3 separate regions of the Homo sapiens genome follow, and all the other regions are linked to region 1. The links come from fine-mapping of genetic effects on gene expression. A gene starts in region 1. Each other region holds a variant in brackets. All regions are shown on one strand. Distances are between the middles of the regions. Region 1 holds the start of CNTNAP4 (contactin associated protein family member 4). Region 2 has its middle 220 kb from the start of CPHXL. Region 3 has its middle 250 kb from the start of CPHXL.

The links. PIP is the estimated chance that this variant, and not a neighbour inherited with it, causes the effect.
Region 2: its variant is fine-mapped to the expression of CNTNAP4 in hippocampus (GTEx, PIP above 0.99). The same link has a PIP of 0.9 or more in caudate and substantia nigra.
Region 3: its variant is fine-mapped to the expression of CNTNAP4 in putamen (GTEx, PIP above 0.99). The same link has a PIP of 0.9 or more in prefrontal cortex.

What each region holds. Positions count from the first base shown.
Region 1 is chr16:76,273,157-76,281,853 of GRCh38, reverse strand. It overlaps CNTNAP4 (contactin associated protein family member 4), which reads right to left and starts at 4,453. Exons shown (of 24, transcript NM_033401.5): 1 at 4,107-4,453. The coding sequence starts at 4,191.
Region 2 is chr16:75,943,805-75,952,501 of GRCh38, reverse strand. No RefSeq gene overlaps it. Among named protein-coding and RNA genes, the nearest start is that of CPHXL, 220 kb to the right of the region's middle. The variant A/G (reference allele first, on the strand shown) is at 3,814.
Region 3 is chr16:75,971,202-75,979,898 of GRCh38, reverse strand. No RefSeq gene overlaps it. Among named protein-coding and RNA genes, the nearest start is that of CPHXL, 250 kb to the right of the region's middle. The variant G/A (reference allele first, on the strand shown) is at 3,199.

The DNA of each region.
Region 1 (8,697 bases):
TTCATATAATTATTTTTTACCATGAAGAATTCTTCTTTTAATTTTTTTCAGCTAAAAATGGAAGAACTATTCTTAGCCCATGGGTCATACAAAAACAGTCACTACTAGCAGGTCAGATTCAGCCCATGGGCCACAGTTTACCAACCTGAGTTAAATATTTTATTATCTTATGATAGATGTTATATAATTCTATTAATCTATTTTCTTTAACAAAAGTCAATTTAATCTTGATATACTCATTAGCTCCAATACAGAAATTGCTTACATATGATATAAATTCCAAAATTAATTTTACAAGACAATAATCTTTATTTCCTAGAGTAAGCACCAGGTATTATGTGAAAGTTATGTTTGATCCCCATGTTGGCCCATGAGTCACGTTATCTCCAGAGCTAGAGGCTGCCTTTATCAGAGATTATTGAGATGCATGTAATAAGAAGTGGAGAAAATGGACTGAATAGATGAAAATAAATCACCATTGCTATTAGAAAAGTGAGTCAAAGTACGTGCTGATCTTTATAGGGGCTAGCCATTTATGCATTGCCTCATAGAATTATATTTTATCAGTACTTTACTATTGCATTCTAGTTATTTTCTGCTATAGGAGTAAATATGGTGGGGGGAGGAAAAGAAAGTAGCTTCTAGAAAGAATTACAAGGTTGAGTTTTAACAATGTGAGAATCTGTCCAGCTGTCTCCCAGGACCCACAAGAGTGATCATCTACTTAGGCAATTTGCCTTCATCTATCCTTCAGTGCTTCTTTTAGGGTAGGTATCAGATACGGCCTTTATTTCCATCAGAGAAAAGAAAGAACACAGTGAGATGTTAACTTCTAATTAAGTCATTGGGGAGCATTAATTATTCTCAAGAGTACGGCTCAGTATACCAGTAACTAGAGAGCCTCCCTCACATAATCTGCAAGAGTTAAAATAAAAGCAAACTCTTATCAGCCTTACTACTGTACCCATTCCTTCTTTTGGGGTAAGTTGACCCCATCTTCAACCATGTCTTAATGTTCAAAAACTGGATTTATAAGAGCTATTAAAAAATAGAGAAATGTCTCTGTTCTTAATGCATGTCTCTTAGTAGCAAGCAAAGAAACCAAGAACAGCCAGTGCAGCTTCTCAAAGAGCACACCCATCTGCAAGGATCCGTCTCTAAACTTTGATGGAAGGGACACTTCAATATAATTGTAAAAGCTCATCTTGATGAGAACAAAGAGAAAAAAATTATGGCTAGTCCACTGCTTTTGAAATGTCAGACAGGATACTAGTAGGCAGGGAGCGTGGTTCATTCAACATATTTCATCTTTAGACAGATAAGTACTTAACAGGGCCACCAAAAATATGCAAGCACATGAGTCTAGTAGTTTACAGATATCTACATACACATATACGTATATACAAATGAGCACGAGTCTAGTAGTTTAGATATCTACATACACATATACCTATATACAAATGAGCACATATACATATATGTGAACATATATGTTTGTCTTTGAACAGAATCCTTCTAATGTAAAGTTTCCCTGCTGTTTAATTGGATCAATTAACATTCAAATTAAAGTGCACCTAATCCCTGAGCTGTACTGGTTTTGCAGAGTTCTGTCCCATGAAAGCTTTCAAACTGGCAACCTTGGGCTGACTCTGTAGATGACAGATTTGCTCCTGGCTCATCAGCTGTAAATAAAGGGGAAAAGTCTTTCTAGTCCTTTAATTTTATTTATTTATATTCAGTTATTTCCAATATTACTATTGGTAGTCAAGACTGACTCACTTTTTCTTAATATAAAGTCTTGTCCAGAAGAATTATTGGAGTCATTATAATACTTTAGAAATGCATATGCTGGTTGATAGTTGCTTGTCCTTACACTAAATTCCAGTCTTGCTGGGAAATATATATACACTTGTCCTTCCAAAAAGGATGAAACATATGAAGTACTTTCCACCATGGCTTGGTACAAGTAGACCTTACTTCTTCCAAAAAGAAAATACTTCTTAAATATTGAAAAATGAAATAGAAATTGAGAAATGAAATATTTTCTTTTACACATACTGCTGCAAATCATATTGTCAAAATATTCACAATAAATTACTGAGTGCAACTTTAATTATATAAGGTCATTTCATTTTATTTTTGACACTTGAAGAACAGTCAACTCCACATGCATGGTAAGCAAGAACTCCAACTTTAAATGTTTTTTATAATGAAAAATCGTATAGGTTTTGCAAGTTCATCAGATGTTTAAAAGAGCATTAGACTACTTCCTTAACAAACCAAGGCTGAAAGAATATAGAACCAGCACTGAAATTTTAAGTGTCAGTGAGGGATCCAACCAGAGCCAAGCAGACATAAATATTACACTCTCCTCAGATCTCTTTCAGCACCTTTTCTTTTCTAAGAAGATATATGGCAAAAGAAAGCTATTTAATGTTGATGTACACCCTACACTTTTTATTGAGCTTCAAGAAAACAAGCAAACATAAACAACTAGCAGCCCAAATAATTAGATTAATGTATTTTAAACCCAACTACAGGCAGTCTAGTGGAAAGACTGAATGGAGTACAGGCCAGATTTAAGCTCTGCTTTTCTTGAGGGAAGGATGCTTGGGGTGATGTGCTTTACATTGTAAGAGTGACCTCTAGTGCTTTTCTTTTTGGTTGAACTTTAGTGGTTGGAAGATGAATTACTTATGCCTTTTCTACAGAACTTCCATTTGTGTGTGGGTGTTGTTGTTATTGTTTGCTTGTATGATGCAATGTTTTTCTAATGCTACCATTATAAGATTCCAAGGTTTTGACTAGGTGAAATTATACATTTTATTGACTTATGAGATTATCACAACACTCAAACTAAAGTTGAATCTGATGTGCAGCACCTGAAGTGAGGTTCCTTCTTTCAGAGTGATGGATACCCTGTGACATTAAATGAGCCCATTCTGAACTGAAACACGAAATCACGGGAGCCAGGTACTGTGAGGGGACATTTGACTTGTGCCCATGAGTTTGTCATGTTTTTCACATATCAGAACTCTTAACATAGTCAAGTGATATGCCATAGCAAATGTCTGATTACTGCCTCTGTTCCCCAAATCTAAGCCTGATGATACAGCAGCAACATAAATTCCTGGACAGGCCTCATAGCCAGTTCTTGGAAAGCAAATGAGCTTTTCCTTTAAAATCCAAGAAAAAATAAAAAGTTGTATTTGCCAAGCTTGTTTGTCATTAATCAGGAGGGGAAAATTCTCCCATTTAGAGAATTTAAGCCAAAGATAACTTTTAAAACTTTTTCTATCTCTAATAAAGAGTGGATGAAGGGAGTCTGCCAAATTATTATGGATGATATCTAAATTATAAATAAGATTTCAATCTTCCCTAAATAGGTTCTATTTCATCAGAACATTCAATTACAAATTTATGCAGTTAAGCATTCAACCACAAAGGAATCCTACTTTTGAAAGACCACCTGACTGGTTTTCCTTTAAGCGAAATGTAGGAAGAGGCTCCTCTTTCCGGAGAGCGCTAAGTCTCATTCTCTTAGCAGCGAGGGCACAGCTCTTAATACTGAGACTCGCCTCAGCCAGTGCTGGTGCTCCTGAAGCCTGCAGTACATTTCAGTTATTAGCCTGCATTATTTTAAAGATGCAGGCAGCTACTGGTCTGCCCAATTGCAAACTTCAGAAATCTAAGCCAATGCAGCATAATGTAAAGTCTGCCAGTTGTTTTCCTCTTAGACATAATTCCAATAAAATTCAGTAGTTCTTTAAAAAAGAAGAAATGAAGATATTCACAGGCTATTCCCCCGATAAGATGCTAATTTCATGTTTTACTAGAACTTGGGCATTCTCAATGAATACTCAAAGACCAGAGGGTAAGATTCTGCGAGTAGACAAAAAGAGAAATGACACTTTGCCTATTTTGACCAGACCAAGAGGAGAGACAAGTGTTAACCGGTCACATTGGCAAGATTTTTAAGTGATGCTTGGTTTACAGCAATACGCTTTGCAGCAATCCCAGCTGCAAATAATCATCATCAAACCAACAGAATCAAAGTTTTGCAGAGAGCCCCCCAGCAAGTTTTAAATCATTTGCTGTATACTTACAGGAATTCCCAGCTTCGACTCTGTTCCAATTTTGAGTAGATAACAGAAGTAGCGTCTTGAGGACAGCTCCCGTGACAGATCCCATGTTCACATTTATTGGGCTCCCCCAAAAGATCTTGAGAGGCTCTCAGAGCGCTCCAGTCCTCTTCTCAGTAGCTCTGCCAGCTCTGTCTGGGTCTTCAGCCCCTCTAGGTCTCTGTCTCTCCCCCTCCCTTCCTCCTCACCTCCCTCCGTCTTTTCTTCTTCCCTCCTCCCTCTCTTCTCTCTCCCTCTCTCTCTCCCCGTCTCTGTCTCTCTCTTTTCTCTCTCTCTCTCACACACACCTCCCTGACTCCTCACTGAAAAGCACTCAGCATCTTTCCTAACAAGCATCCACACCGCCGAGGCCACGCCCACTCCTCGCAGCAGCGGTCCCACAAATTGGCAGCAGCATCCTTCCTTCCAAACACACAACAGCGCTCGAGCTCCGCTGCACCCAGAGGCGCGGCCTCCCGTTCGTGGGCCTCCTTGGGGCTCCCTCCCTTCTCTTCTATTTTCCAATAATCCTTAACCCTTTTCTCCCAGCTGGAGGTGTGAGTGGGGGAAGGGACAAGGCGGTGGAGCCTTCTGATTTTCTGGAGGTCTTGCATTTGCAAGAGCCAGAAAACACACTGAGCCATTCCTGATTATCCGGGAGTGCATCCAGGTAAAATTGCATTATGTTTCAAAACAAAAGCATAAAATAAGACAGAAATAACTAAGCAGCATTGGGAAATTGTAGCTAAAACCGTCCTCAGGGAAAATACTTGCTGTTGTTTTTCTCTGTTTCTATAAAACTGTACTCTTCAGCGAGGGTGCCAGGATTTTATTATGGAAATTCCCCACATGGGAACAGACATTCCTGCTTAGCAGATATTTAAAATCATCTGGTAGTAGTCTGCAAGAAATTAACATTTCTTATTTTAATGCTTCAGGTGTATAAATCCACAAATGAAATGCTTTGGCTAGATTTATGTTGATGAATGCATCATGCTGTGAATATGAAGTACCATTCTATAATCAAAATTTTTAATAACATTTCCAAAAAGGCCCAAAGTAGGAAATGAGGGAATACTGAAGAAAGGGACCTCCACCACCACCACATACACACATGCATACACATTCACACAAACACTGAACAATGTGACGATGTAATTCAGGTGACTTAAAGGAGAGAGGAGTAAAGTTGAATTTGGAAGATCAATGATTAAAGAAAAATTACTCTTTGAATGGCTGGTCCATGGATACAACTGTTTCTTGAATGGAATTTTAAAATGTCTAAATAATGGAGTTACTATCACATAACAAGAAGCATGTCACATGGTTCATAGCAGATAAATAATCTATTTAAAATAAATGTCAAGATGTTTTACTGATAATGTGCTAGATTTTATACAAATGGAAATCCTGGAGTTCTTAAGTGCCTCTTGGTAATCACAAATTGGAAGAAACATAAGCCTTTAACACCACTTTCTTATGGAATAATGAGAGTGGGTTTGTCAAAGATCAGATAGGTTTGTCAAAGAGTGAGAAAATGACAGAAATACCCGTAAGAACTAAACATGCTTGTTTAGCTCATGCCTGCAAACAAAGCAGAATGCATCTTTTTTCTTTTCCTGTTTTACAAGAGAAAACAAGAACAGAGAATTTAAATGATTCGAAGAGGTCATAGAGTTAGTAATAAATGCTGAGGACTGGATTTGGCTTTTCTGACTCCAGTTTTACTGCTCTCACCCTAGGACTTATTGCCCCTAAATCAGAGTATACCTCCTTCCTGACCCTTGTCAGTGGCAGCAAAAACCTTAGGCCCTAGGAAAACACAGCAAACACTTTGGGAGGCCAAGGTGGGCAAATCACTTGAGGTCAGGAGTTCGAGACCAGCCTGGCCAACATGGTGAGATCCCATCTCTACTAAAAATAAAAAAAATAGCAGGGTGTGGTCGCAGGCAACTGTAATCCCAACTACTTGGGAGGCTGAGGCAGGAATTCGCTTGAACCCGGGAGGCAGAGGTTGCAGTGAACCAAGATTACACCACTGCACTCCAGCCTGGCCAATAGAGCGAGACTCTGTCTCAAAAAAAAAAAAAAAAAAAAAAAGGATAAATACAATAAAATAAAGAAAGGTCATGGGTTGAGTGTTTATTCTGTGTTCCTAGACTTGCATTCCTGATTTTATTTTTTCAATCATATGCTAAGTAAAAGCAGATATAAATTAACAGTTTATGTTAACTAATTATTGAAGGAGATTAAATTTTACTGAACACATACTATATGCCATTTGTTATCTAATTGAATAATTATATCAGTCCTTTGAAGAAAATATCATGTCTGTGGGACGGTTGTGGGCTCTCCAGAAGAAAAAAGTTGTCTCGTTGTTACAATATTGTATTTAATTGTTCTCTTAAAACAAATTAGAGAATGCATCTTAAATGGATAAGTACACATAGCAAAAATGAAAAATAAACATTTTATAACAATAATAACTTCTTTGGGACAATGTATAAATTATTATAGTGACCAATACTGGCGGATTTTTCCATATCAATGGGCTACAGTAATAGAAGGAATTGGGGGCTGGCCCTCAATAGAAGACCTGAGCATTTCAAGTCACTGCAAAACCTGTCTCTGCCTGATGGCTGCAGAGGGGTAGAGAGTTGCCTAGACAAATGAAACAGTGAGTGCTTGAGATATGGTAAACAGAGAGGCCTCAGCCGGGCGCGGTGGCCCACGCCTGTTATCCCAGCCCTTTTGGAGGCCGAAGCGGGCAGATCACGAGGTCAGGAGATCGAGACCATCCTGGCTAACATGGTGAAACCCCGTCTCTACTAAAAATACAAAAAATTAGCCAGGCATGGCGGCAGGCGCCTGTAGTCCCAGCTACGTGGGAGGCTGAGGCAGGAGAATGGCATGAACCCAGGAGGCGGAGCTTGCAGTGAGCTGAGATCGAGCCACTGCACTCCAGCCTGGGCGACAGAACAAGACTCTGACTCAAAAAAAAAAAAAAACAAAACAAAACAAAACAAAAAAACCAGAGCGGCCTTGATACAAGCTTCCACTGTTGTTTTGATTAAATGACTCAATGATGCTGACCTTTCGTTTATTTATTTTATGACCCGATAGGAGAATCATGACCAAAGAGTTACTGTGGTATAACATATGACAACTATTGAATGCCTTGTGCTTAGTGGGCCCTCACTTACTTCCCAGCTTTAGATCTCTGCATTAAAACTGTACAGAGAATTGGTCTAAGCAGGCAATGTCAGAGCTTGGCCACCCAGGTTCAGTGTCTGTACAGGTTCCACCACCCACTAGCTGCACGGCCTTGGGCAAGCTGCATCAGGATAATAATCCTTGATCCTTAATTTCCTCATCTGTGCACCAACGATGAGTACGGTATCAACCTCATGGTTAAGACAATGTCCTGTGAAATGAGCATGCCTAGGAGGCGCATGATCAATATTCCTTTTGTAATCATTATATTAGTACAACTCACACGACACAGAAAAGAAATCTGATGAGCAGAGGGATTACAGCTTGTGGGATATGACCCACTGGTGGCAGAAAAGGGTTCATCTCCAAGACCTACTAACTTATGCATCATTTCTCCATTCCCTCCAGGATGGTGTTTAACATCAGAAAATCGAAGGAAAAGTCAGAAAAGTGTGGAGATCTAATTTTGCACACCTGTACTGCTGATTCAGATTCCTTTAATCACTTCTCCCTGTGTCTGTATTTTGGTTATGTTTTCCACCAATTAAGAAAAGACCCTGGTGTTTAAGGTCTCCCACGTCCATACTATAGGTTACACCCTGCCTGGCAAAAGCCATGTAAATCAGATCAAAATGTTGAAATTCTTAAAATCAGGCTTTGAATTATTTTCTTGTTACAACTTGCCAGAGAACTGTATATCCCACCACAGTGGTCCATGGAGGATCCTAAACTATAGTTTAGACTAGAAAAGGGCCAGAAGGCAAGAGTGGAACTATATTACATTGAAAGACTAGAAAGAAATTAACATACAATGTTTTTGTTTCATTTATTCATCTAACAGTTATTTTACCCTACATTTCTATTATAGGAATCTTTTCATTTCAAATCTGGGTAATCATTTCATTTCTTTTACATTGTTTGATTTGTCTTTATATCTTCCAAATGAAATGGATACTTTTTAGACATTGTGCTTTTACCTTCATTTTTATTGTAGTTAAAAAAAATACAACATTAAATTTACCATCATAATCATTTTTAAGTATAGTTCAGTAGTGATAAGAATATTCACATTGTGATCCAACAAATCTCTAGAACTGAAACTCTATACCCATTAAACATTAAATCCCTCTCTTCCCTCCCCTCCTGCAGCCATTGGCAACCACCTTTCTACTTTATGTTTCTGATTTTGACTACTTCAGATGCTTCATATGAGTGGAATTATATGGTATTTGTCATTTTGTGACTGACTGATTTCGCTTAGCATGGTGTCCTCAATGTTCATCCATATTGTAGGATGTGACCGGGTTTCCCTCTTTTTAAGGCTGCACAGTATTCCATTATATGTATACACTGTATTTTCTTT
Region 2 (8,697 bases), 330 kb after region 1:
ATCATAAAGTAATAATACCATCATTTATTGAGCTCCTATGATATGCCCGACATCATTCTATGTAGTCCTATCACAATAACCATAGCACAATGACCCTATAAGCCAATGATTATCAATTACATTTTACAGATAAGGAAACTGAGGCTCAGAGTTTTAGTAACTTGCCCAACATTGCGTAACTACCAAGTACTAGAGCCTCTGTTTAAAGTCAGGTCCAACTCCAGCACTTTCCACTGGCTCAGCTAACACATGTCTATGTATACAAGACATCTTTAATGTCCCTACAGCTGTGGCAACTAAAAAAACTTACAATCTGTAACTCTCTTTCTATCAAAAGTTTCCATGCAGAGATGCCCAAGCTTGTCTAGGCTACTGTGAAAGAGGTGCCTCCTACTAGGCATACCTGGAATAACAGGGAGGGAAGAAAGGAAGGGGCGGCTAATGGAAGGAAATGTGTGAGAAGTAGGAAGTGCTGTCAAAGAAAAACAACTTTTTTTTTTCACAACTTCAAAATAACTTCAACTAGCCCAAAAGTTTTGCCCATCTAAAACCACACTGGTATAACATACCATTAGCACATCAGTTTCTGGTAATTGCTTCCAAAGAGTTCAAAATCATTTATATTTTTAAGTCATTCAATATTCTCATTGCAGGATTGACTGAATCAATAATTTGCTCTAGAAATTTTCTTTATATGGTTGGTACAAAGCTCACCTGTTTGCAAACTCCTGTCTAAAGGATCACACATTTCAAGTCATCAGATTTGGAAATAATGAATTTGGGAAGGAAATGATATCCAATTCTACTTTTGGATCATTTGGGAGCTCCTAAAAATGTTGACTGGAAAATCAAGGTTCTTATGACATATCTTGTTTATAAAGTTGGTGGTGTTGGGCAAAGGCTGAGCCTCTGAAACCAAGTGTTTGTTACCTGAACAGTCAGTTGCTTTGATTGGGACTTAACTTACATTTAAGTTAAGTGCTGCAATCACCCATATAACATGTAAATTGTCATCATGGAGAATGATCCTTTGTGCCCTTCCTAGACAATGTTTTCTACTCCAAGAATTAGTAACTCTTCAGTCTTCTTCCCTCAATTACTGTTGATTAGTTTTGGCTGTTCTTGAACTTCATATAAATGGAGTCATACAGGATGACCAGATTCATGACTGCACTCCTGAGCACATTATTGTATTTGTGAGATTCTTCCATTTTGTTCTGCACAGCAAACAGTTTATTCTTCTGTGTTATATTCCCTTATATGAATATACCACAATGTGTCTATTCTCCTGTTAGACTTTCTAGATTTAAGGTGTAATGAATAAAACTGCTGTAGATAATTTGTACTCATCTTTGGGGGAACTCAGTTCTCTGTGGTGTATACCTATGAACGGGTTTGTTGGAACATAGGGTAGGCATAAGTTTAGCTTTAATAGATACAACAATTTTGGAAACTATATGGAAGTATCAATTTATTCTCCTTGAGATTTGTTTTATGGCTCACCATCTATCTCTTGAAAGCTCCATGTCACTTGAAAATAATATGTATTCTAGTTATAGGATGTCATGCTTTATAAATGTCAGTAAGATCAAGGAGGTTGATAGTGCTAATCATAACTTCTACTCTTTGACCAATATTTTAATGTAGTTGTTGTTATAAATTGCTGAGAGGACATGTGAATATTTCTATGTGTAATTTTCTATTTTCTTTGTAATTCTATTTTTGCTTCATAGAATCTGAAGTTCTAGAGTTAGGCACATATATATTAATTATTATTATGTCTTTGTAATGAATAGAATTCTTCATTTAAAAACATCCCTCTTTATCTATAGCATTCTTCCTTGTCTTGAGGTTTACCTTGTCTGATGTTAATATAGCTGTTCTTTTTCATGTTTATTGTTTGCATGGTGTATCATTTTTTCATCCTTTTGTTATCACTCTTCCTCTGATTTAATTATAACAGAATGTCTCTGTAGACAGTATTTAATTAGATCTTCCTTTTTTCCTACTATCTGATAATTCTAATGTTTCAACTGGCATATTCACCTCATTTACATTAAATATAACGTTAGCCTAAGTTTGATTTTGGCTTATCATTTTACTATTTGATTTCTAATTGTCCCATCTGTTTCTCTCTTCTCTGTCTCTTCTGCCTCATTTTGAGTTAATCAAATATTTTTGGTACTTCTTTTAATTTCCTTTATTGGCATTTTTGCTATGTATCTTTGCATCTTTTTCATAATAACTTAGAGGTTACATTATGAATAATAAAATTTTAATTATAATGTTAATATTACACCATCTCACAGGAAATGCATGAATGTTCAATAGTATATGTCTACTAACCTCAAATCACTACTCTTTGTGAGGTTTTTGTGATACATATTCCATCTTCATACTTTATAAACTGAAAAATTTAGAGTTGTAATTTTTGCTTCACACAAATATTGAAAAATGCCATTGTCTCTTACACAAAACACAATAGTATCTTCTCAGCTGATTTTCCACTTTCATTCTAGTCCCCACTTTTAAGTCATATTTTATACAACAGCCAGAAATGTTTGCTTTCAAATGTAAATTGGATGGTGCCACCTGTCCCAAGCTTAATTTGCATCAAGGGCTTCCTAGGATGAAATAAAAACTCCTGGAAGTGGCTTCATATTAGTCTGATAGGATTGCCATAACGAAATACTACATTTAAGACTGCGTGGCTCAAACAACAGATATTTATTTTCTCGCAGTTCTGGAAGCCAGAGGTACATGATCAAGGTGCTGGTAAATTCAATTTCTGATGAGACTTCTCTTTGTGGCTTGCAGATAGCCACGTTCTCACTGTTTTCTCACATTGTCTTTCTTTTGTGAGTATGAAGAGAGAATGAGAGGGCTCTCTCTTGTCTCTTCCTCTTCTTATAAGGAAACCAGACCTACAGGATTAGGACCACCTGCTTCTGGCCTCACTTAAGCTCAGTTACCTTCTTATAGACCCTGTTTCCAGAAGCAGTCAGAGATTAGGGCTTTAACATATGAGTTGGGGGATGGCAGACACAATTCAGTCCCCAACAGACCTAAAATCATGTGGCCTGAGCCTAAGGAAGAATGGGTCTGTCTCACTTGTACACAACACAACACACAGGCACAAACACAACAGCTTGTGCCTATTAAAGAGCCTGTATCAATACAGGACGGACCACACTAGACCTATCTGTGTATGTGTAACTTTTATTGACTCTCAGATTCTGCCTCTTCAAGTAATTTATATGCTGGAAAAAATGAAATCATATTTTGAACAAGTAAAATTACAATACAACTTAAACCTAAGCAATGATCCAGGCACCGCCAGACAGAACGAATGTCCCTGAGTGCTTACGTTACATCTGTGTGTGAGGCCTGAGTACACTTACAATTTTGCACATTCAGGAGGACTTTCAATGCAAAATCTTAATGTAAAACTAGAAGATACACAGGATCCCCAGAAAGAAGACCAAAGAGAAGGAGAAATAATGAACTAAAAGTAAGTTTTGTAGAAGATTCAATTAACTATGGAGATAAAAAGCAAAGGAATTGGTACAAACTTAACCTAATTGCTAGGTATCTCAAGAAGTCTGAGTGATTACAATGAATATATTTACATATGACATTTACCCAGAAACAAGAAGAGGAATCATTCACTATCAAAATTTGCAAATGATTTTTCAAAACACCTCAACAAAAAGCCTGTGTCTCATACCTCCTAGGCCTGTCTGAAAATGAAAAGCTCCATTCTGTGATAATAAATAACAATTCTGGCTATTGTGCACATGTGCCCTTTTATTC[A/G]TTATTTTAATCTGGATGTTTGCCTAAATTGTCAATAATGCTTGTTTTCAAGATGTAAGGGCAAATGTAGCATTGCTTTATTCCACCTACCCAAATGAGACGTCTCTTGATCTGTAACCATTTGTATCCATTTTCTATTGCTGCTCTAACAAATTACACAGCAAATAAAGGGACTTACAGTTTTGTAGGTCCGAAGTCTTATGCAGGTCTCACCAGGCTACAGTAAAGGTTTTGGAAGAGCTGTGTTCTTTTCCGGAGGCTGGACAGATTTCTCCTTGCTCATACAGGTTGTTGGTGGAATTCACTTCCTTAGGTTGTAGAACTAAGATCTCCGTTCCCTTACTGGCAGTCAGCTATAAGCTGTTCCCAGTCTCTGTAGGATACCCACATTCCTTGGCTGGTCTACCCCTTCCTCCATCTCTAAAGACAGTAATAGCAAATCCCTCTCACACCTCGAATTTCTCCCCCTGTTTTTATTGCACCTCTTTATGACAAAACCAGGAAAAGGTGTTTCACTTTTAAGGCTGGGTGTGATTAGATTAGATGCCCCTGTGTAATCCAGGCTTCTCTCCTTCACTCAAGGTGCATCCCCTTGATCACACCTTCAAAGTTCCCTTTGCCATGGATGGTAACTTATTCACAGGTTCCAGGGATCAGGGTGTGAACATCTTTGGAGAGTCATTATTCTGCCTGCCACACAATTACGAGAAGGACTTTGTGTCTACATATAGGGCATCTCACTGCTGCAGCATTTTCAGACTCTCTCCTCTCCTTTCCCCTGGTTGTATGCAGATTGCTCCAAAGTAAAGAGCACTCTGCAAACAATTCTGTCCATTATTATGCACAGAAAATCAGTGTAAATCCACAAGGGCTATCATTTTCCCCTGTACTGTCTTTTTAGCCTCTCAAATTTGGCAGACATCTGAATGGTGTGACTTAGTCCCTGTTCCTCCAGGAAGATCAGCCCTTGTCACCCCTGCAGCTGTCAATCCTCCTCAAAGGGTCCAATTCTATGCTTCTATTTTGTCACAAAGTAAAAAAAGTGAGAGAACACAGCAATAACTCTTTGTGTTGATTACTTCCAGGAAAGGTGCTTCAAAAACAACTTCAATTCATGCCAAATAATTTTAATGAAAGAAGGAATGAATGAATGAACATTATGAAGGGAGTGGAGAGGAGAATGGAAGATTCATCTTTAAAGTAAAATAGGTTTTAAATAAACAATTTGTTACCTGTTCTTCTACCACTTGAATTGCTATTAAAATTGTATGCAAAGATTTTGTTTTCATGTTAAGAAACAGAGCTAAGCCGGGCTTGGTGGCTCACACCTGTAATCCCAGGACTTTGGGAGGCCAAGGTGGGCGGATCATAAAGTCAGGGGTTCGAGACAAGCCTGGCCAACATGGTGAAACACCGTCTCTACTAAAAATACAAAAATTAGCTGGGTGTGATGGCGGGCACCTGTAGTGCCAGCTACTTGGGAGGCTGAGGCAGGAGAATCGCTTGAACCTGGGAGGCAGAGGTTGCAGTGAGCCAAGATTGTGCCATTTCACTCCAGCCTGGGTGACAGAGCAAGGCTACATCTCAAAAAAAAAGAAAGAGCTAATAGATACCCTTTCTTATGTCTGAGTTCTTTCTAGCTATATATAAAAATGAACATTGTAATTCAGTTAAATTACAGAAAATGAGTTCAATATGTATCCCTTTAGGTTGGAGCAATCTGCATACAACCAAGGGCATGGAAAAAGGGGGAAATGTCTCATTTCCACAATTGTGACCTCATTTTCTTAGTGTTTGTGGCTTTGCCTACATCTGCTCCATATGGTGGTGCTATTTAGTATATAACTTGCAAACTCAGAAACTGTGTTTAAACTAAGATGTTCCTATAACTAAGGTGTTCACCTGTCACCAAGATTACCTTTCCTTTTTTTTCTCCCTGGCAGTTTTTATTTGACATACTGTATAATAAAATCACATACTTGCTTACTAATAAAAGTATTGCCATTCCATTCACACTTATAGAATTGGTAGCTATATTGGCAGATAACAAAGGGAAGTTCCCCATCCTTGGATGTAGCATCAGCTTTGCAGATCATGCAGTATGGATAAAATAGTATTGACATAACAAAGTCAAGACAAGGGCTATGACATTCATTTTGAAGGAATCATTATTCTTAGGAGGTTTTATTTGACTCCTTCACCTTCCTTTCCACCTTAGGGGAAAAAATGTTTATTTAATTTTTTTTTGATTGTTCACATATCTTCCATTGTTCAGTTCAATTTTCTCCCCTCAGGTGAACCGAACATAGCAACAGGAAAGACCTGGTAATGATGTGACAATTCTGAGTAAAGCAGCCACGAGAAAGTAGTCGGTATGTGTTTTTCAGACACACGCTCACAGACTGACCTCCCTGCCTGATTAGGCTGCAGTGGGAACAACTGCAGGTGCAGTCACCCCTGACAAAGAAGGCAGACTTGTATTAAATGTTCTACCTTAAATAAATGCCCAGGAAAAATGAGTAGCTACCTCCAAACCAAGCTGTAATACTGTGGGAAAGCTCAGAAGCCATGGACTTTCATCTCAGATAAGCCGATGGCCCTGTGGCCTGGAGTAAGTTCTGAAATTCTCAGTCCTTGTTACTTATCTGCATAATGAACATTCTCCGGTAGAAGAATTATAAGCTTCCTTCTGGCCAGAACATCCTATAATTTTAGTTATTAGAATGTAATGGCCATCCTCCGATGAAATAAAATATGCTCGGAATTCAAAGGCACAACGAAGGGATCACAACCTAATAGGGAAACTGGTTATGTTTTCTAGGTAGTATCTTGAAGTCCAGTCCACACCTGCATCTCAAGAACAAAGAGAATGGCTGAAGAGGAAAGCCCTATTGCAGCCTCTCATCCATTCTATAGATAAAAGGAAAACCTGAGGGCGGCAGACAGTTGATGTCCCTTCCCAAACAGCCTCAGGAATGAATATTTAACTCACCTTGCCCATCATTTGTTGAACTCCCTATGCAATAATGTGCTGGCTGGTACAACCACAATGAGAAATTAGGCAACAGTCTTAATATTAAGATTAATCTAATTAAGATACGAGGGAAACATTTTAAAAAGACTACTTGTAATACAATACTCTAAGGATGATCATTAATAACTGCTGGCACAAGTAGTGTAGGGATCAAATGTACATTATTTTGACACAATGTCTGCATTTCCAAGGAAATAGTATCTGTGTACTAAACCCATGCAGTGAGAGAAGATAAAATTAACTGCCTCTGAATAGCTGACATTGAAACAGGACTGAGCTTTTGTGCTAAATAAAGACTTCTATTTGTCCACTCTTTATACATAAGGTAAAAATCATGATGGAATGTAAAGGGAAATAAAAGTTAATGATTTTGGAACAAAGCTGCATGATGCAAGTGCTCCATTGGGAATAAACAGACCAGGAGCAAGTTGGAGGGTTCTGTGAGATGAAGGTCAGTTTCCAGTCCATTCTGCAGAATCAATACAGTTCCTTGGACTTGCAATAGGTCTCATAAGTCATAGATTGACTGGGCCATGTATCAACTTCCACAATGCATAGCTCTCAATGCCTCTCATTGGCAAGCATTGCTGAGCAAAAATCTGTGATTAGAATTTGCAGCTGGAGTGGAATGCAGCCCACATATAGACTGGCAGGGAAACTAGAGTGGACAACCAACAGCAAGTAAAGTACCATCACTTTCAGAAGACCGTATGTCAATTCCGCAATTGATTTCCAAAGACAAAACTGAAATTGCCATCAGCGGGCTTCTCTGAACATCCATTTCATAGATGAGGTTTGTCTCAATGAAACTGACATTATGCACAACTCCACAGGTCCAGAGAAGCATATTAATGTCCAGCCTTCTTTTTGATAATGTTTTCTCATGAAAAAATATTTGAAGAAATAAGGTAAGAAACAAAGAAAAGGAACAATAAGTGCCAGGAAATATCATTTATTCCCCATAGTTTGACTGAGTCAGGCACTCTTCCAGGTGCTAATAGTAAGTTAAAAAGGAACTGAACAATGAGATCACATGGACACAGGAAGGGGAATATCACACTCTGGGGACTGTGGTGGGGTGGGGGGAGGGGGGAGGGATAGCATTGGGAGATATACCTAATGCTAGATGACGAGTTAGTGGGTGCAGCGCAGCAGCATGGCACATGTATACATATGTAACTAACCTGCACAATGTGCACATGTACCCTAAAACTTAAAGTATAATAAAAAAAAAAAGAAAGAAAGTAAAAAATCCCTGCTTTTTTACGTAGAGCTCAGGAGATGGAAAGCAAACAAATAAATCAGCACGTCATAGATGATACGTGAGAAGGTGACAAGCACAAGAAAGAAAACAAAGCAGGGAGGACAAAGGTCATATTTAAGGGAGTGGAGCTTTATCAGTTTTCATTGCTCTGAAAGTGCTCACTGCCCCGGCAAAATAAATTGCTTCGCCCCAATTTTTGTTTGCAGTTTGACCTCTTTGGGCTAGCAATCAAAATCCATGCAAAGTAGGTATGCTTGGGAAACAATACCCAATCCCCTGTCTCCATTTAGCAATTGATCTGATGGGCCAGAAAAAAAAAAACAACAAAAAAAAACAACTCTGAACTCTGATTGTAATCATAGATAACATTGACATCACACTTTCTAGGATCCAGCCATCATCCTAAGTGCTTACATATGTTAACTAATTTAATCTTCATGTCTCTTCAATTAGGTATGTTTAGTTTCATCCTTAATTTTCAGATGAGAAGGCCAGGACAATCAAGTTCAATCTGTGAAGAGTAGAGTTGAGATTTGAATCTAGATGGTCTGGCTTCCAGAGACTGTGCTCTTAGCTGTCAGTGTAC
Region 3 (8,697 bases), 300 kb after region 1:
ATACAAATGGCTAGTGGCTGTCATATTGGATAACACAGCTTTCATGTATTGGGACTCAATTAAATCTCATAGTCCCATATAAATGTTAAAGTTTTACAGATTTCTGTTTACGTTTTCTTCAGCAGTTTTATCATTTTCAATGTGATTTACTAAAAGCAGTGCAGCCATTTGTTTTTCTAAATCCCTTCTTGTTAGTCTAGACTTTTGTGGGCGTTTATTTTACAACATTTACAACCATGAAAGCTAAACTTATGGCTTATTTCCCATATCAAGATTAGATCTACCTACACATTTTCAGTTTTATTTTCACATTTACTTTTATATTTTCAAAAATTCCTCCTTTGCTGATCCTTCCCAGAAGACATTCATACCTTAATAGAAAATATGAACAGCAAGTATGAGATGGGAATGTTTATTGTTCTTTCTAATGAATTTCATTTTTGTAAAGCTTGTTCATGCTATAGTCTGCTTAGTGAAGACAAAGCAAGGCTATCTATCATCTTTGGTTAGTCCACACAGTGTCAGACTATCATACAGAGACTCGAGTAACTTGATACTAAGAAATAGGAAATCTCTAATTAATCATAATGACTTAGAAGTTCTGTATTTGAAGTAGCAAACAGAATGGAGCAGGGATACAGTGTGATCAAAGAGAAGAAAATGTGGACATCTAATCCAAGGAAGCAAGTAATGATATTTTATTATCAAAATTATTCCTCAACTTCTTAGAAGTCATGATAGATATCTCAATTTTTAAAACTGAGAAATAACAGAAACTTCTTAATGAGGCCCTTATCTTGGTATTAAATTTTAATGTAAATGCTCACCTAGGACCTAAATAGATTGAAGAATGAGTAACGTTTCTGACATCTTTAATAGCAGATTCACAATAACCATTTAAGCTTTTGACACATGCACACTTATGTTTATTGCAACACTGTTCACAATAGCAAGACATGGAATCAACCTAAATGCCCATCAGTGATAGACTGGATAAAGAAAATATGGTACGTATACACCATGGAATACTATGCAGTCATAAAAAAAGAATGAGATCATGTCCTTTGCAGAGACACGGATGGAGCTAGAGGCCATTATCCTTAGCAAACTAACATAAGAACAGAAAATCAAATACCATATGTTTTCACTTATAAGTGGGAGCTAAATTATGAAAACTCGTAGAAACATAGAGGGGAAGAACAGACACTGGGTGGGAGGAGGGAAAGGATCAGGAAAAATAACTAAAGGGTACCAGGCTTAATACCTGGGTAATGATATAATCTGTACAACAAACCCGTTACAGTTAAGTTCTCCTAAAACCCAAACATAATACATCACACTTTAACTTAAATCTTTTCCAAAGTTCCTCATTATCTGGAGTCTTGGCCAGTCTTTCTCAGTTGGGGTTCCCTATGTAACAGACCTGCATGTGTATCCCTGAACTTAAAAGTTAAAAAAATTAAAATAAAAATGTTTCTTTCATTTTAGCTTCTATTCACTTATTTTTATTTCGTTTCCAGCTGTAGTTTTGCTCATTTTTCAACTTAAGAAAATTCACCCATGCCTGAGTAGGGCCTTCATTATAGTGAATCATAGGATGTAGACAGTGTCAATAAAATACAGCAATTATGCATGTACAATCTACAAGGAGAAAAAATCCTGTTTATATTTGTTTATACCCTTATGGAAGAATCATTACAACTTTCATAAAAGCATTATTTAGTAGGAATTAATATGGCAGAATAAAGCCATGGCTTTTAATGATCATTAGACAGACAGAGGCTACAAGATTATAATTTGTAGTAACTATAATGTAAGCCCACCATCAGTGAAATAAAGATCCCATGATCAAGAAGAGAAAAAGGGAAATTGCTATCATAATCTTAGTTCCTGATTTTAAATATCTGCTGGTCTTCCACTAATGAGAAAATAAATCCAAAACTCACCATATACAAATAAAGCCTCATTGTGTGGTATAGTTATCCATTTCTTCCAGGACATAAAACCAGGCTGTAGAGGACGTCATGTGAGTTATATGCACAAGAAACTTTTTATAGCATTTATCCCTGTTGGGAATTTACATGGATTTGCGCTTCTTTGCTTAATGCCTGACGCCTCATTCAGTGGTTAAAGGCTAAGTCTATTTTGCTTATCATAATAGCCACAATATTTGACATCCAGTAGGTAGCCAATCTATGTTTGCTTTAAATGAGTGAATTAGTAATTCTTGTGCATCCATCATCTTCTTTTGATTACCATTTTCATTTCCGTCATCACCCTTCATGTTTAAATGATCTAGTAATCATTAATTTCACATTCTTCAAACTCTCCTAAATACTGTTGCTGTTAAGTTCTCCTAAAACCCAAACACAATATGTCACACTTTAACTGAAATATTTCCACAGTTCGTCATTATCTAGAGTCTTGGCCAGTCTTTCTCAACTGGGGTTCCCAGAGACGATGAAACCCAAATGCCCTGGACACTCATTGTATGTAACAAATTAACTTCCTTCCTATCCATCTAGATTGCTGATAGTTGTTACCAACTTCGGAAGTGTTAAGAAAATAACCACACAACTTATTTTATGTAATGCTTAATTATTTTGTGAAACCCCAGTTAAGAAAGACTAGTTCCAGGTCAACAACATGGATCTGCCTTAATTTTCTAGTTTATTCTCCCGTAACTCCTCTTCACATCTCCTTGGCATCATCCAAACCAAACGCTTTGCAGTTACCCTCAGCTGTTTCTGTTTCCACCCATTAGTAGTCTCAGTTCCTTGCGTATTCATTATGTGTCTCTTTGGATAAAATTTTACCACGTCTTTAAGATTTACCACAAATATTCCATGAAGATTTTCTCTACTGACCCAGTATAATTTTTATTTCTTTTTTGGGCTTTCTCAATATTGTTTCACTTAACCCCATTTAGCTTATCATTACAGATATTTTTTGTAATTTTTTTGTCTCTCCTGTGAGTTTCTTGAAGGCTGAACTTTTGTCCACAGGAAAAAAACATCATGTCTTTTGCAGAATAGATGCTAGGTTCAGAGGGCAGACCATCAGCTGCTGAGGGACAAGGTCTAAGCCGTGTGATAGCATCATGGAAAGATGTAGGAGAAAGAACAGTTGTCCTCTAATACAAAATATCATTGTTCCACTACTGCCTGGCATAAAGAACAAAGGCTTATAATGAGCCAC[G/A]TCATGACAAAGCATTAAACATTAGGAGAAAGTATCAAGGGATTATTATTTACCTTTTCTTTGCAGATTTGTGTCATTAATTAAAATACAAGGATCTCAGACACACACACACACATACAGACTTTCTATGTCAGAGAGAACTATGCTCTATACTTAATCACTCTATTCAAGGGAAAGTGATTGGCATAATTGCATAATTGAAAAGAGAGTGAGATGCTTTCTGTCAAAATTTGATTGCAACACTTTCCTTCAAACTTCAGGAAGTTTCCTCTGACTATGGTTGAGACTCATTTTCTTGAACAAGTTGCCTCGATTATGCAAACATTACAGTCTTTTTTTTTTTTTTCTTTTTTTTTTGAGACGGAGTCTGGCTGTGTCACCCAGGCTGGAGTGCAGTGGCGCAATCTCGGCTGACTGCAAGCTCCGCCGCCCGGGTTCACGCCATTCTCCTGCCTCAGCCTCCAGAGTAGCTGGGACTGCAGGCGCCCGCCACTACGCCTGGCTAATTTTTTGTACTTTTAGTAGAGACGGGGTTTCACCACGTTAGCCAGGATGGTCTCCATCTCCTGACCTCGTGATCTGCCCGCCTCGGCCTCCCAAAGTGCTGGGATTACAGGCGTGAGCCACTGCACCAGGCCTAACATTACAGTCTTTTTGAGCAACTCTTTACTAATATTATTAACATATAATTATACAGTTCTATAAACATCCATGTACCCTCTTGCTCTAAATATATATGCATATACATGTATATACATATATATACACACATACGCTCATACATACATACAGGTGTACCTTTGAATGTATAGCCAGTTTCAGTTTTCTATATCCAGTTGCTTTCATAAAGCTCACTGTAATATGTAATCCACATCTGCAAAGCTGATTGTGGTGCTATTCTATTAGCAACGTCTTCCTGGCACATTCTCATTTATTATATTTAGTACACTATTGCTGCATTGTGTTAAATGCCCCCCTGGTGGCTATTTTAACAAGTAAACATGCATTTTTAAGTACTTAAAGAATCAGAATGTAAATCAATCACTACAAGTACATAACGGTCAATGTTTTATATAAAATTTTGCTGTTGGCTTACAGGTTGTTTACTGACCAGATTTAGAAAAGTATCTATTATTTGAAAATCAATTCAATTAAAAACTGTCTACTTTTGAGTCTGGACCTAATAGCAATCAACATATTCAGAAAAATTTGAAAAGTGTGTGGTAAGAGGTCATGAAAATTAACTCTGTTGGTGTAGAGTATTCCAGTAGAGAGCTGGCTGCTAGTCTGCAGTTTGGCTAGCATCTCTTACCAAACCTTGGCATGTCTACTCACAAAACTGATAAACTAGAGACCATCATATCATTTATGTTACATAAGTTCTTTTTTTTTTTTTTTTTTTTTTTTTTTTTTGAGACGGAATCTGGCTCTGTTACCCAGGCTGGAGTGCAGTGGCGCGATCTCGGCTCACTGCAAGCTCCGCCTCCTGGGTTCACGCCATTCTCCTGCCTCAGCCTCCTCAGCAGCTGGGACTACAGGGGCCCGCCACCACGCTTGGCTAATTTTTTTGTATTTTTAGTACAGATTGGGTTTCACCGTGTTAGCCAGGATGGTCTCCATCTCCTGACCTCGTGATCCGCCCACCTCGGCCTCCCAAAGTGCTGGGATTACAGGCGTGAGCCACCGCGCCCAGCCATACATAACTTCTTTTTCAAGTTAAACATCAGTAAATAAAGATATAGAGTTATAATTATGTGAGTATGTTTGATCATAATTTGACTTACAACAGTCAACGCTAAAATATCTAAAAATATATTCCTCAAGCCTTAAAAATGTTTATGAATGAGCGAACAAAACAAAGGCAACAAAAACCATATAGCATAAGATATCAAAGAAAGCACCAAAACAGAAATTACACTGAGCATTATTAAAATTAAAATTAAAAGCATTATAAAATTATAAAAAATTATAAAAAGCATTATAAAAATTAAAAGCAGAAGAAGCAATATATCATAGTAAGTGGAAATGAGATAAATTTCCTATTAAGCCTCTGACTGACCAATAGATAACACAAAGTGTTACCACACCCATCCAGGCGACTTAAGACTAAGCCCTCAATTGATGGAAACACCTTAAAGTTGTATCAAGAGCCCCAACAGAGAAATAGGCCCCTTTTTTGCAATAGTAAATTGTATTATACTAGAAAAATTGGTAATTCTCTGTAATGGAAATCTCGAGACAGCAAATACAAGGCCGTCTCAAAAGAAAAAAACCCAGAAGCCAATCAGCTGCTTGAAAAAATCATGTAGCGTAACAATACCTTGCAGTTTGCAATGACATTACCGAAGTTCTAGCTCATAAGAAAGCTAGAAAACTAGAAAATAGACAATAAAAAACAAGTTAGAAACAAAAGTTACTCTTCTAAAAAGAGTAGGAAGCAATGTGACTCAAACTATTCAGTTCAACTAGCTGTATGACTTGGAAAAAAATTACCAACCTTCCAATCTTCAATCATTTCATTGTAAGTATAATAAAAAGTTACTGCTCTCTCAACTTTTAGCTCTTTAAAATGTTACATCCTGTAAGCCAGTTTGCATTCGATATGCACACACACAAATACAGAAACACACATGCACAGTGGGATCAAAGTAGGTGAGTGATGTCTCTTGCTTACTTTTTTCCCTAAAGATTGAAAGGTTCTTTAAAACTTTATCCACACATAGATATCCGGGAAATGGGACTAATAAGGCAGAACTCACAGAGCAGATTTGCAGATTAAATAGGATTACAATATAAAACACTAAGCATCATACTTTGCACAGTTAGTGGTCACTGTTATCACCATTGGTTCCCAATGCCGTGGTCAGCCATGTGAATTACTGAGGGTAAGTTTTGAGCTGCGCAAAGGAACACTAGCATGTTGTCATTTGTACATTTGACTTATGCAAATCCAAGTGTAGGTGCTTGAGGAAAAGAACAGAGAGCGAGTACTGACTATCGACTTTCCACTCCTATCAATGAACACATGCCACAGTGGAAGTACAACCCTAGGAACAGAATGTGCTGTTTTTATCAGTCAACCCTTCTGTCTCCAGTATTGTGAATATCTCAGCGCACAAGTATGATTCTGGGGTTAAATGTGTACATTTTCATATAAGATAAAGCCAAAACGCAAGGCAAAAGTTCATCTGATAGTCAAGTGAAGACACAGTGATTGGATCAACGCTGTAGAAAAAGCTGTTTGGCTTTGTTGGTCTTACTGAGGTTATTCATGTCCATAGTATGTATCTTATGAGTGATTTGTGGGAATATTCAAGAGGAATATTTTACTATATTCCAGTTCCACCTTACAGGCAGACTTTAGAAACCTCAATTGTATAGGATGTACATTCACTTTATAAATGTGAGACGAAGAAAGGGAAAAGACAAGAATTATTTTTAATGGCCCCAATAAATGTTGGGTTTGCAACAAAACTCAAATCCAGCCCAGAAGCATAAACAGCAAGATGAATTGATCAGAGTGTGCCAGATGAAAGCTTAGCTAGTTAATTATTATATCATCTTAAGTGTAAAGACCAAAGATGTTGCAGTCATCAAAAGCAAACTTGATCACTAACCAGAGAGTGGTTCACGGTAGAGGGAAATGAGAAGAGGATCTGGTCTTGGGAAATGCCAACGACATCAACCCATGGACTGGAGACATGGCTAAAGATTCAAGTATCATGGGATTAAAATGCAGGGATGGTCATTTTATAGGCATATGCCTCTTTGATGTGTGTGTGTGTGTGTGTGTGTGTATGTATAAGAAAGAGAGACACAGACAAAGAACAAGATGGGGTGTTAGGGGCAGTAGGAAACTTGAGGAGAATACTAGAAACTGCCAGCAGATGATACAGCATTGAACATTTAGGGTTCTGCCACCTGAGAGGTGACAATCTAAGCTATGTGATTCTCAGGTACAGGAAAGGAACCTTAAATGCTTATTTGGCTGGGCTCTTACTGGTCTCAATTAGGGGGGCCACTGGTAACTACTAGACAGGATTCATCAGGAAGGACCAATCTGAGGAAATTGAAAAGTAGGAAATTAAACTAACGCAATCCTCCTCTCCCTAGTTATTCATTTAAAAGTTTGCCTCACTCTCAGTCACATGCATGGTGTCCAGGGCAATTTTCTACCCAGCTGGCCATGAGCAGGAGTGACTGTGCACCCTGAATGTCAGAGATACTTCTTCACAAGAATCTGTGAAGACTGCCAGCCCTGTGCTTTCTTTTTAAATCCCTCTTCCCAGAATATCCCCTGCCTGACAGTTGCTGGCTGATGGTGGGTACAGTGGGGAGAGTGTGGATGTGAGGCTCTGTGAGCGACACTCTTTACAGGCTCTCACTGTGAGAGGAAGGAACTGTGCATGGAGGCAGAGATTTCCACTAAATGTCCATTGGTCCTACTTCAATAAAGGCTTCAGACTTAAAGCCAAGAGAGAAACAGTTATAAAATCAGCTCGATGAAACCAGCTACATCTCCATGAAAAGGGCTAACTTTCTGTACTGTGGATAGGACCTTTGAATATCTTCAGATTTTAAAAATACACAGGTAGCAAACACTGCTGGTAGCTCTCATTCTCCATTAAAGGGAGAGCAATTACGTCAAAATGATAATGCAATGTGTATCCTCAACTCATATTATCTATTTGCTGTCCTTTGCGTGCAAAAAGATATGATAGAAAATAGTAAGAGAGAGAATTGCTAAGCAGCTGGTTAATCATGGCCTGTGCAATTATTATATTTTCATTCTGGCTCCGAAAAAGGAAACACTTAAAATGAATGAAATATGCATTGGTGCCGCTAGCAATGAAATTAAGCCACCTTATTAACTGTGCAATTTTTACAAAGGTTCCGAGAAATACTCATTAGGCCTTTTGTGTGAATTGAACTTCATCTCCAGCCCCATCTTAATTCCCAGAATATAAAGTAACACTCACTTAAACATCTCGGTTTTACTAAGAGATGACAAATAAAATACTTGGAGATTTTGGAAATAGAATACACATTAAGAAAAAAACAAGGTCCTTATTAGCTGTTTCATCTTTTATTTAGTTTATTCCTTATCGTGATCCTCTTATTGTTACTATTATCACTATTACTATCACTACCTTCAAATCATTATGCTAGGTTATTGCACAATATATCATTAATTCTTTAAGAAAAGCAGGCAAGACAGGAATTACCATTGTCATTTACTAAATAAGAAAAGAGGTTTCAGAGCACAATTAACTTTCTGAAGCTCCCATTACTAATAAGTCTGAACAATTCCAAAGCCCACATTCATCCCATCACTCATATTTCCATATACAAACTTGTCAAGAATCATTGGGAAAATGCATTTATATTTTACTATTATATGGGTCAATCTAATATTACTAATGTAACTTGAGACATTTTCATTAAATGTTCACTATCTTGCCATAAACGTTTTATAAATATTAATCTCAAATTATTAAA